Linked DNA regions of Homo sapiens. The gene in region 2 interacts genetically with the main gene of each other region. Each region holds a gene or a part of one and is shown on either strand. Other genes may lie near its edges.

Region 1 (3,500 bases), on a different chromosome or scaffold from region 2:
TAGCCAGGGTGGTCTCCATCTCCTGACCTCATGATCCACCCGCCTCGGCCTCCCAAAGTGCTGGGATTACAGGCAGGAGCCACCAAGCCCAGCCACTTTTGTCATTTTTGTATGGTTATTCTATTTAAGGCAATTGGTTCTCCATCAATTTAGTGATATAAACTCTGCTCACATAATTAATTTTATATGCCTTTGAATAGACACAGGGTAACTCTGGAAGGATAGACAAGAAACTGGTGACAGTGGCTGCCTCTAGTGAGGGGAACTCAGAAGCTGGGGACAGGAATGGATTGGAAACTTAGTTTTATCAGTTTACCCTTTTGTATATTTTGAACCTACTCAAAAAATAAGTAAATCTTAGTTTAAAAATAAATTTAAAGGCCAGGTGTGGTGGCTCATGCCTGTAATCCTAGCACTTTGAGAGGCCGAGGCAGGCGGATCACGAGGTCAGGAGATCAAGGCCATCCTGGCCAACATGGTGAAACCCCGTTTCTACTAAAAATACAAAAAATTAGCCAGGCATGGTGGCACGCGCCTGTAGTCCTAGCTACTTGGAAGGCTGAGGCAGGAGAATCGCTTGAACCCGGGAGGTGGAGGTTGCAGTGAGCCGAGATCACGCCACTGCACTCCAGCCTGGGTGACAGAGAGACTACATCTCAAAAAATAAATAAATAAATAAATAAATAAAAATAAAAATAAATAAATAAATAAATTTAAGCAAATAAAGACTTACAGGTAAGGTTTTGGGTAAGGGAATATTGTGAAGATGGTGGTCCAGGGCCTGGGCTGGCACACATGGGCCCTTCCCCTCAGCCCTGGCTTTCCCTGGCCGCCCCAGGCTCCCAGTATCAGGTGCAGGGGAGGAGAGGAAGTAAAGGGTGCCATACTTACGTCCTGACTGACCTGTAAAGACACCGTATGGTAGCTGGCAGGCACGCCTTCGTCCTCATCATCATCACTCTGCCCGCCCCGAGAGGCATGTTGGCTGGAGGTTCGAGGCCGGCGAAGCATTGATCCCTCTTTGGATTTCTTCTTGAAGCGGTTCCCTTTGCTGTCATATTTGTGACTCTTGCCACGTTTCTCCTGGGACTTGCATCCTGAGCAGAGCCAGACTCAGGTCACATTTCTGTGTCTATATAGGCATAGATACCCTGCCTTTTCTCCCCTCTCAGCCTCTCCCCTGCATAATTGCATGGCTACTCCCCAGCTGCCCCCTCATCAGCTGACCCACCGCCATTCAGACTGGCCTCCACAAAGATCCGGAGAGTCTTGACGCAGAGCTCAAAGTTGTCAGGTGTGATGTGGGCAGCATCACGCACAATGAAGGACAGCGATTCCACACACTTAAGCAGAGACTTAGTGTCGTGTGGCCCCAAATCCAGTCCCACTGTTAGGCTGTATTGATTGATCAGGGGTGAAGGGCCTGGGCGGCTGGGCCCTGGCTTGGAGTTATCAACGTCATCCTTCCCAACCTGTAAAGTACACAGAGGAGCTGGGGACACAGGCTTGGCCCCTGTGTGAATGTCCTTGCAGAGGACCAGGAATTCTTCCCACAGGTCAAGCAGGAGAGACTCAATTGCTGCCCATATTGTCACTCACCACTAACCAACCACTGTTGACCACATCGGCATCTGTGGCTGATCGGTGTATCTTGCCCGGCCTGCCATGGTCAGTGTAGACCTCTGAGTCGGAAGTGTACCCTCGATCCAGGCTCACGTCATTCTGATGGTAGGATGGGAGCTCACTATCTGACTGGGCCCCTATGGTAGGCAGGGAGAAGGGCAGAGTCAGGGTGGGGATGGGGCACTGGGATGAGGGATAAATCAGGCTCTCAGAAAAAAGATGCTGAGGCCTGGCCTCCCCTCTCTCTGGCATAGTTTAATTTCTGTCACCAGAGGGCCAAAGGATGGCCGGAACAGTTTCTCTGTTGACCAAATAAGGTGGCAGGCTAATCTGGGTTCCTGATGGCATCTAGTGGCAGCTGTAGCACCACTCTAGGGAGTGGTGGCAAGGACAAATAAGCAATGCAGAAGGCTATGAAGCCAGGCTTTCCACTGTCCTGAGGACTGTTTTCCCAGTTTCTGGGATTTAGTGATGTATCGATTTAGTGATATAAAGTCTGCTCACAGAATTCTATTTTCCCAGAATTCTGGGAAAACAGTCCTCGGGACAGCTCAGAAACAGAAACTGGGAAACAGTCCTCAGGACAAATCAGTCCTCAGGACAGTAGGAAGCCTGGCTTCACAGCCGTCTGCATTGCTTATTTGCCCTCATGCTATTTAACTTATGGGTACTAGCCAGCGGGCACTGGAAGCTCTGGAAGTGATGGCAGGAGCCAGGGCTGTTTAATCTGCTGAACACAGTAACCTGTGTTTTGTTTTCCTGTCCCAACTCCTGGGGTGTAACTGTTTATCTGCCAGCCTGAGTCTCCCTGGGAAAGGGCTTACCGGCATCAGGTGCATCTGCCCTGGCTGTGGCCTGCAGAGCAGCTGGAGGCTTCACACCTGAGCCGATGCACTCCAGCAGTGTGAAGAGTGTGGCCCAGTCATCACCTGAGTGGATGTTGGCTGCATTGGTCTTCAGGAGTTCATGGAGCCCATACGCAACCTGGTGGCTGACTCGGGATAGCACACTGGGCTTCATCAGTAGCAAAATGCGCAGGGAGAGCAGCACCTGGAGTGGGGTTAGGGCAGGGAGCGGGGAAGCGGGGAGCTGTGTGGGCACACAGCTTCCTGTCTAGTTTTCTTTCCCACCAGTCTCCTTAGGCCAGTGAAGACAGTTTGGCTAGGACCCAATTTAGGATACTGCTCTGGTCTTTTTTTTTTTTTTCAAATAGAAATATATTAATTATATTATTTGAGACAGGGTCTTGGTCTGTCTCCCAGGCTGGAGCACAGTAGCACAATCACAGCTCACTGCAACCTGAAACTCCTGGGCTCAAGTGATCCTCCTGCCTCAGTCTCTGGAGTAGCTGGGACTACAGGTGCATGTGACCACACCTGGCTAATTTTTTTTTTCTTTTTTGGAAAGATGGGGTCTCGCTATGTTGCCCAGGCTGGTCTTGAACTCCCAGGCTCAAGCGATCTTCCCGTCTCAGCCTCCTGAAGTGCTGGGATTATAGGCATGAGCCACTGCACCCAGCCTCAAATACAAATTTTTATTGAGAAAATTATAGGCTCATATGCAGTTGTAAAGAAATAATACAAAAAGGTCCCTTATACACTTTGCCCAGTTTATCCCAATGGTAACATTATGCAAAACTATAGTATAATATCATAATCAAGATACTATCTGATCTTATTCAGATTTCCTGTTTTACTTGCATTTTTGTGTGTATTAATTTCTATACAATTTTATTACCTGTGTAGGTTTGGGTATCCACCACAAAACAACATACTGAACAGTTCCACCACAACAGTATCCCTCATGTTGCCTTTTTCTTTTTTTAGAGACAGGTTTTGCTCTGTCACCCAGGCTGGAGTGCAGTGGTATGATCATAG
Region 2 (3,500 bases):
TCCCCCATCAGCGGAGGGCCCCAAAAAGCCAAGCAGGAAATATGCTGGCCGTGTGGGACCGTGGCGGTATCTGCTTGTGAGGTTTTGCAAGATTGTAATGCTTTGGAAGCCCTCTGTTCTCTTCCCCAGAGGGACCACAATATATAAAAGTTTCAATCAACACAGAGTTTTAATCTTGACAGCTAGGCAGGGAGAAAAACGTACCTGCTAGAATCCCCAAAGCCCCTCAGGGGAAGCCTGGGTTTTAGCACCAGGAGCATCTGAAAGCTGGTCGAACCCAGCTTCTTCCATGCAGGACTCCACTGGGGGCCATCCTGCCTCTGCTTGCACACCTCTGGCAACGAGGGGCTCACAGCTGACTCTAAGAGTTCTCTATATGCCAGGCATAACTCTGCCCAAGGCCCTGCCCTATCCCCAGGGCCCCAGAACACAACCAGCCCCCGACACTACTTTAGAGGCACCACCCATTCCCCAGCTCTCCCTGGGGCTTCTCCAGGCTAGGAACCCCCCGTCCTCAGAGGCTGTTTCCCATGACATCTTTTTCTTCCGGATGTCATCTGGCTACCACAGTGCCCAGTACTTGGTGAGGAGCCAGGAAGCCATTGTCAAGTGCACGGCTGCAGACCTGGCAGTCTGGAGCTTGCCCAGAGGCTACTTGAATGGACAGCAGGGGCAGTGGGGGTGACCTGCTGCCACCCTGCTCCATGAGGCCTCCTGTCTTAGTCAGTCCCCCCGCTGCGCTGACGGTGGTGGCTGCCCTCCTTCACGTGTCTTTCAGGGAAGGATACTGTATTCGTGCAGGATGAGCTGCACCAGCTTTTCCGAGCACTGGGTCAGCGTGACTGTCGAGTTAAAGGAGATGCCACCACCTTTCTTGGGCTGAAAGAGGAGAAAGGGATGGGGAGAACTGCTGACCGAGGGGTCACAGCAATGGTCCCACAGCCTCAGCCGCCAGCCAATGCAGTCTCAAAACTGCCACACCCCTGGCCTGAAGGCCAGAGAGGTGCCTCACCTTGAAGTAGATGTTAGGCTTGTGCTTGTTGAGGCGGATGCCCACAGACTCCAGCTCCTTCTCCAGCAGAGACCTAGGAAGAGTACCCCTTAAGCCCCTCACAGGCTGTCCACAGAGCCAGATGCACAGCTTCCCTGTTACGCAGGATGTCACTGCCCACCCAGAGACTGACTCTCTCCTCCACCCCCTTCCCCAGCAACCCAGAGAACACTCCTTCCCAATGCCCTAGAGCTGCAGGGAACTTCTAAACTCTGCCACAGTCCCAGAGGGGACTGGCCCGGTTTACGGTCGGCATGCACAGGCAAGTGGTGGAGCCCCCGCGAGGTGACCACATGAGGGTACTCCTTCTGGTCCCGAGGAGGCAGGCCTGGTGTACCCCTCTGCCAGGATGTGGATGAACAATGCTTCTGTGCCTGGGGCTGGGCTCCTGGCAGGTTCTGGGCAGTGATGAGGCACCTGTGCCTCTGAACAGGAAGCAGGGCCAGGCCAAGCCCCTCGGCCCCCAGTCCCAAGATACCTCTGTGCTGGCTGGACACAAGCCTTGAGGAGAAGACGCCATAGGCTGGGTGGTGTTGGGTTTAGTCTGTGACAAGTCCTACCACTACTCTCACGTGTGAGAGAGCCAAACACCCACAGGCCGCCTAGTACGAGCTCAGGGACACATTGGCCCTCCCCAGACATGTGAGCCTGCCCCATGCCCCACCCTGCGGACCTCTGCACCTCTCCCTTGGTGGCATCCAGCATCATGATGATGACGTCAGCCGTGCGCGCCACAGCGATCACCTGCCGGCCACGGCCTTTTCCTGGATGGGTGTGAGGGATGCAGTTACATATGTGGACCCATGTGACTGCTACCCAGCCCACGGCGCCCTGGACTCCTGTCCTTTACAGACCTACCACAGCCTCTGCCACATACTAGCACAAGCTTGGCATTTTTCTTTAATCCACATGTTTTACTGACGGAGACTTATTTCAGAAGAAAATCCGACACCACCATCATAAAAGGAGTAACAGGATAATAACGGCTGTCCTACGCCCACCCCTACCATGTGGCAGGGCCCAGGCTAAATGCTTCCTGAACATTTCCTCACTTAATCCTCAAAACTATGCTGTAAATTATGTATTATTATGCCCATTCTACAGCTGAGGAAACTGAGGCTTGGCTTAGAGATACCCAATCACTTGCCCAAGATCACAAGGCTAGTTTGGTGCCAAGGATTTGAACTGGAACCTGTCTTTTCTGGAAAGCGGGATAATGGACCAGGGATCCAGAGTGATCTCCATGACAGCCACACCCAATTTCAACGATCAGTAACAGAGCTCCAGTCTGCTTCCCACACACCTGCCCTGCCTCCCACCTTGGGCTGCGCCTTCAATGATTCCAGGAAGGTCCAGGAGCTGGATGTTGGCACCTTTGTACTAGGATGCAGAAGAGAAGAAAGGTAAGGCAAGGCTGGGCCTCCACTGGAAAGGTCCTGTCTGGATCTGGGACATCTGGAATGGCCCCGGGGCTCAGGGGCTGAGGGAAACCCAGATGCCAACCTGTGGCCAAGTCTGAGCCTTGTCACCACCCCAGCCCAGTGCAGACCACAGCCTATGAGCTGAGTAGCCGCCTAGGGAGGGCTCAAGATCTTCCAATCCCACAACACTCATCACTGATGATACCAGCACTTTACAAATAAATTGTTTCACCATGGGAACTTAAGGCCATACCACTCAGCTGCCCAAAGCAAACACAGCCCAAGGCAGTGAAGCTTCATGGGGAGGCAGAAGGATCCAGCCAAGCAGCAATTAGTGACCAGAGCTGTGGTGGTGTTGGGGAGGAGAGCACAGGGGGCGCCAGGCAAAGTAGCCACATGCTGGCCTGACCTCCTAGTTCCAGGCCCCACCAGGCATCTCTGGGGTCCAGCAGCTAGGATCCCCAGAAGTGTCAGTGCTGGAGGGCAAAGCAGCTCAGTCCAGAGCCTGTCCTGACATGGGGACATCCACCCAGACTCACACACAGGGTGGGCACAGGCACAAGTCCAAACACAAGCATGCGCCCCTTCTCCTTCTGGGCCCAGCACACCCACTTACTTCAATGACCCCAGGAATACACGTCAGAGTGGTGAACTCATAGGACGCTGCCTCGCTGGCCGTGGAGGTCATCAGACTCAAGAATGTGGACTAGGAGAAAAGGAGATCATTGCACTGAGGAGCCTTGTCCCTGGCCTTCTGGGAGAGGCCCCAGGGGCTGGGGGCCTGCAGGTGCAGGCAGCAGGAGGAGACCCTCTCACCCTCGGCTTGGTGACCTAGGTGGCTGTGAAGAGACCTCCCAGCCAGAGGGCTCACCTCTGGCCCTGTCCTGGATGGGTCAGACACCAGAGGCCCATCTGTTCCTTGGAGGCCTCAGGACTGTCTCAGGTAGAGGCAGGGATCTGGATTCTGATGGGGTTCCCCATATACATCAGGAGCCTCTCCTAACCCCACACAATCCTCCAGGCCCTCT

Evidence for each region. A genetic interaction does not mean that the proteins touch.
Region 1: changes in DRG2 (region 2) and GBF1 together harm fitness more than expected from each alone (negative genetic interaction), as found in Homo sapiens cells (one study listed by BioGRID).

What each region holds. Positions count from the first base shown.
Region 1 is NC_000010.11:102,374,532-102,378,031, reverse strand, and holds part of GBF1 (Golgi-specific brefeldin A-resistance guanine nucleotide exchange factor 1), read right to left. Parts: intron 2,674-3,500; coding exon 2,448-2,673; intron 1,761-2,447; coding exon 1,600-1,760; intron 1,473-1,599; coding exon 1,232-1,472; intron 1,098-1,231; coding exon 892-1,097; intron 1-891. UniProt on the Homo sapiens protein: Guanine-nucleotide exchange factor (GEF) for members of the Arf family of small GTPases involved in trafficking in the early secretory pathway; its GEF activity initiates the coating of nascent vesicles via the localized generation of activated ARFs through replacement of GDP with GTP.
Region 2 is NC_000017.11:18,097,948-18,101,447, reverse strand, and holds part of DRG2 (developmentally-regulated GTP-binding protein 2), read right to left. Parts: intron 3,179-3,500; coding exon 3,089-3,178; intron 2,432-3,088; coding exon 2,371-2,431; intron 1,816-2,370; coding exon 1,725-1,815; intron 1,086-1,724; coding exon 1,013-1,085; intron 880-1,012; coding exon 789-879; intron 1-788. UniProt on the Homo sapiens protein: Catalyzes the conversion of GTP to GDP through hydrolysis of the gamma-phosphate bond in GTP. When hydroxylated at C-3 of 'Lys-21' by JMJD7, may bind to RNA and play a role in translation.